2 separate regions of the Homo sapiens genome follow, and region 2 is linked to region 1. A link means that fine-mapping ties the variant in region 1 to the expression of a gene that starts in the linked region. Tissue or cell type: whole blood. Region 1 holds a variant in brackets; the other region holds the start of a gene. All regions are shown on one strand. Distances are from middle to middle.

The links. PIP is the estimated chance that this variant, and not a neighbour inherited with it, causes the effect.
Region 2: it holds the start of DUSP16, and the variant in region 1 is fine-mapped to the expression of DUSP16 in whole blood (TOPMed, PIP above 0.99).

What each region holds. Positions count from the first base shown.
Region 1 is chr12:12,410,521-12,413,280 of GRCh38, forward strand. The region is part of intron 2 of BORCS5 (BLOC-1 related complex subunit 5); the gene reads left to right. Among named protein-coding and RNA genes, the nearest start is that of BORCS5, 55 kb to the left of the region's middle. The variant C/T (reference allele first, on the strand shown) is at 1,228.
Region 2 is chr12:12,561,725-12,564,334 of GRCh38, forward strand. It overlaps DUSP16 (dual specificity phosphatase 16), which reads right to left and starts at 1,139. Exons shown (of 7, transcript NM_030640.3): 1 at 393-1,139. RefSeq lists silencers at 39-238, 259-378, 409-488, 939-1,448.

The DNA of each region.
Region 1 (2,760 bases):
AAGATCAGATAGTTGTAGATATGCGGCATTATTTCTGAGGGCTCTGTTCTGTTCCATTGGTCTATATCTCTGTTTTGGTACCAGTACCATGCTGTTTTGGTTACTGTAGCCTTGTAGTATAGTTTGAAGTCAGGTAGTATGATGCCTCCAGCTTTGTTCTTTTGGCTTAGGATTGACTTGGCAACACGGGCTCTTTTTTGGTTCCATATGAACTTTCAAGTAGTTTTTTCCAATTCTGTGAAGAAAGTCATTGGTAGCTTGATGGGGATGGCATTGAATCTATAAATTACCTTGGGCAGTATGGCCATTTTCATGATACTGATTCTTCCTACCCATGAGCATGGAATGTTCTTCCATTTGTTTGTGTGTTCTTTTATTTTATTGAGCAGTGGTTTGTACTTCTCCTTGAAGAGGTCCTTCACATCCCTTTAAGTTGGATCCCTAGGTATTTTATTCTCTTTGAAGGAATTGTGAATGGGAGTTCATTCATGATTTAGCTCTGTTTGTCTGTTATTGGTGTATAGGAATGCTTATGATTTTTGCACATGGATTTTGTACCCTGAGACTTTGCTGAAGTTGCTTATCAGCTTAAGGAGGTTTTGGGCTGAGACCATGGGGTTTTCTAGATATACAATCATGTCATCTGCAAACAGGGACAATTTGACTTCCTCTTTTCCTAACTGAATGCCCTTGATTTCCTTCTCCTGCCTGATTGCCCTGGCCGGAACTTCCAACACTATGTTGAATAGGAGTGGTGAGAGAGGGCATCCCTGTCTTGTGCCCGTTTTCAAAGGGAATGCTTCCAGTTTTTGTCCATTCCGTATCACATTGGTTCTTTCATGTGCTTATTGGCCATTTGTATCTCTTATTTGGAGAAATGTCGGTTCAAGTCCTTTGCCCATTTATGAATTGGGTTGTTTGAGGTTTTTTGTTGGGTTTTAGGAATTCTCTATATATTCTGGATATAATATACATGTATATAATAAATGTATATAATAAAATATACATGATTTGAAAGTATTTTCTGCATTTTGTGGGCTGCCTTTTTACTCTGTTGATAGTATCTTTTCATGCATAAAGTTTTAAAATTTTCATTGTCCAATCTATCTTTTTTTGTTGTTGCCAGTGCCTTTGGTGTCATACTTAAAACATTGTTGCCCAATTCAGTGTCATGAAACTTTTGCCTGCGTTTTCTCACTATAGGAAACTATAGTAAAAAACATTAAA[C/T]GTTTTATTGTTTTAGATCTTACATTTAGGTCATGGATTCATTGTTAATTAACTTTTGTATATGGTAGTAGGTAAGGGTCCAACCTCATTCTTTTGCATGTGGATAGCCAGCTTTCCTAGCAGCATTTGTTGAAAAAACTGTCCTTTCCCAACTGAATGGTCTTGGTGCCCCCAACAATCATATGACTTTATATGTGAGGGTTTGTTCTGGGCCCTCTGCTCATTTCTGTGGTCCATTTGTCTGTCTTTATGTCAATGCTGCACTGTTTTGATTACTGTAATTTTAAGTTTTGAAATCAGGAAGAGTGAGTCCTCCAGCTTTGTTCTTCTTTTCAGGATTGTTTTGGCTATTCAGGATCTCTTGAGATTCCATATGAATTTTTGGATGGATCTTTCTATTTCTGAAAAAAAGTCACTGGGATTTTGATAGGGATTGCATTGAACCTGTAAATCACTTTTGGTAATATTGACATCTTAATATTAAATCTTCCAATCAATGACTATGGGGTGTCTTAACATTTGTATGTGTCCTCTTTAATTCCTTTCAGCTGTATTTTATGGTTTTTTTTATTGTACAAGTCTTTCATCTCCTTGGTTAAGTTTATTCCTAAGTGTTTTATTCTTTTTGATGCTATTGGAAATGGAATTGTTTTCTTAATTTCCTTTTTGGATTGTTCATTAGTGAATAGAAATGCAACTGATTTTTGCATGTTGACTTTGTATCCTGCCACTTTGGTGAATTTATTTATTTATTAGTTCTGATAGTATTTTTGTGGAACATTCAGGTTTTCTATATATGAGATCATATCATCCGTGAACAGACATAATTTAACTTCTTTCTTTCTAATTTCGATGCCTTTTATTTCTTCTCTTGTCTTATTGCTCTTGACAGAACTTCCATTATTATGTTGAATAGAAGTGGTGAAAACAGGCATCCTTGCTTTATTCCTGATCTTAGAGGGAAAGCTTTCAGGTCATCACCATTGAATATGAAGTTTGCTTGCATTTCTTTTATATGGCTTTTATTATGTTGAGGTAGTCTCCTTCCATTCCTTGTTTGTTGAGTGTTTTATTTGTTTGTTTTTATCAAGAAAGGGTGTTGAATTTTCTCAAATGCTTTCTCTGCATCAGTTGAAATGATTTTGTGGTTTTCTTTTTTTTTTTTTTTTTTTTTTTTTATTGATAATTCTTGGGTGTTTCTCACAGAGGGGGATTTGGCAGGGTCATGGGACAATAGTGGAGGGAAGGTCAGCAGATAAACAAGTGAACAAAGGTCTCTGGTTTTCCTAGGCAGAGGACCCTGCGGCCTTCCGCAGTGTTTGTGTCCCTGATTACTTGAGATTGGGGATTGGTGATGACTCTTTTTTTTTTTTTTTTTTTATTGATCATTCTTGGGTGTTTCTCGCAGAGGGGGATTTGGCAGGGTCATAGGACAATAGTGGAGGGAAGGTCTGGTTTTCCTAGGCAGAGGACCCTGCGGCCTTCCGCAGTGTTTGTGTCCCTGGGTACTTAAGATTAGGGAGTGGTGATGAC
Region 2 (2,610 bases), 150 kb after region 1:
AAGTGAGCAGCTTCGCCCGCAAAGGTGCCGCGTCCCGCGGCGGCCGCTCCTCTCGGCGGGGCCCGGTCCAAGCGCCGCGCAGCGGCCGGGAGCGCACCCACTGCGACCCCGCGCCCGGCCGCACGCCCCCTTCCCGCTCCGGCCAGCCTCCGGCCAGGCCTACACCCCCGCTTCAAACGCTCCTGCGGCCCCCGGCCGCGGTCGCCCCCACGCCGCCTCCCGAAAGGGTGGCCGGTACGCCCGGGAAGGCAGAGACGGCGGGGCTGGAGCGCGGCGCCCGGCACCGGGAGTCGGGGCGCGCTGCGGAGCGTCCATGCGGCCGGGCGGGAGGGCGCCCCGGGCCCCGCACCCTCCCGCCCGCACACCCCGCGCGGCCCGCCAAGGCCACTTACTTTTGGGGCCGCCGACCTCCCAATTCCCTCAGAGGGAAACGAAAGTTGTCACGGCGTCTCCCCTCGGGCCCCCCTCGCCTCCCGGACTTGCGAGGCGCCGCCGCGGAGCCGAGAGGGCGGCTGCGCTCCCGCTCGCGTCCCGTCCCGTCGCTCTCCTCCTCCTCTTCTTTTCAGTATATTATCTTCTCCTTCTCTGAGGGGTGGGTTGGGGCGGGAGGCTTAGGAAGAGAGGAGACGCTCGCAACTTTTCTTCACTCTTTCTCTTCCACCCTCCCCCCCATCAGCCTTCAAAAAAAATGTCGAAAGAGATGAAGAACTTAGGGAGGTAAAGGTGGGGGGCCGCGTTGTGAAAGTGGGGGTTGGGGGGGAGAGAGAGGTGGTAATAATCGTTTAAAAACTGATTAAAGCCCCCCAAACACTGATACATAGAAAGAGGGGGAAAGGCGGGGGGGTGGGGTGGGGGGTTGGGGGAAAGAGAAAGAGTCGCTGGTCAGGAAACTTCAAGCGCGGATGAGGTCATTGGTTTAAAAATAAAGAGATGGCGTCACTTGAAACCAATCCCAGTGAATGAACTCAGCGGAGCCCCGGGGAAAGGAGGAGACAGGCGAGGGCAGGGCGGTGGGCGCCGGGCGGGGCCGCGCGCTCGCCCATCCCGCGGCCGCCCGAGCCCGGAGCGCGGCTCCGCGCCTCGTTCCGGCCGCTCGGGGAGGGGTCAGGTCATGTTCCCTTCCAGAGTCCGGCGACTCTGAGGCAGGTTCCGCGGGCGCCGCTGGGAGGAGCCGGAGCTGCCGGAGGAGGCGGCCCCGCGGCCTCCTCCCCCACCTCTCCCTCCTCCTCCTCCTCCTCCCGCGCCCGCGCGCCCGCCCCCTACCCCCGGGCTCGCGGCCCCGACCCCCGGGCCGGGGTGTCCGCCTCCAGTGCTGCGCCCCAACAGGTATCGGAGGGTTTTCTCCCTCACCCAGACGCAGAACCTTTCCCTCCTCCTTGAGCTGTTTCCAGCTGCCTCACCAACGTCAAAAAACGCAAACACTGATTTGAGAGAATTACACTCGCTCTGTAAAAAGTCTGGCGAATGCAAAAGGCAAGGCTCTGCCATCTCTCAGGAGAGAAGTTACAGGTACTTCAAGAAAAATCACACTACTGTTGTCAGGCATTCAGCTATCTATATGTTTATGGTTGAAAGCCCCCACATAAATGTTCCTACATTACTTTACTTTGCTTATATTTACAAATACAAGGATAAGCAGCCTACATTTTCTTTAAAAATGTTTTCTACAGGAGGCAGCGCAGAAACATCTTTAAATAAGACCAGGGGTTAACCGCCTCTTGAGAGGTACAAAACCCTTGTTGATTTAACTCCACATACCTCGTGCATTTTATTATTTGAATTCATTAAAATGTCTGTTTTGAGATGACATTATGCACTTTGGAAAACGAGAGACCTGAGGTGGTGACAAACCAGGACTTGGAATCACTGAATAGGACAATCGGAGCTTTATTCCAATGTTCTTTGAGCATTTGAGCATGAAGCTGCTTCTACTGAGAAGTACTCACGTGGATATCACATAACAAAGATGTGATTAATGACGGAAAAGCACCCTGCGAGTGGACTGCTCCATGAGCCAGAATTTATGTGTAGGAATAATCTAACTCTTCAAATATTCCATTTACAATGTGCCGGATTGGGACACTAGACCCTAAAGGCACTGTTTGCTGTGGGATATCCATGTGCACCCTGCCTAAAGCACGTTTTTCCACTAGCAAAAGAACTGATAAGCAGGTTTGGGTGGGTTCGAAAGATAATACACCCCTGTTACTACTTTTCTGCCTTTAAGTCCTGCAACTAAAGGCATTCCTTATGATTGGTAATCATTGAAGGTTAGTGTTGCGGGGTATGGCCCTGGGAACTTCTGGCCCATCTTTTATAGGAGGGAAAAAAAAAGCCCATTTGAAGATGGGAGGCACCCTAGCACCTCTGGCAGTAGTAGGTAAAGCCTGAAGGCCACAGATGGAGAAGCAACTTTGAGCCTGTGCCTCTGGCCTCTTGAAGACTTTGCTAGGGGAAGCAAATCTCTCCCACTGCTCCCTGTCCTCTGGTGGCCAGGAGGTGTTACTGCAGCTTCCTTGGGATTATTTGTGCTCTACCAGGAAACCCCTAAAAATCTAACTGTAGACCTTTGTTGGAGGTGTTGGGATTTTTAGGAAGGAAGAAGAAGAT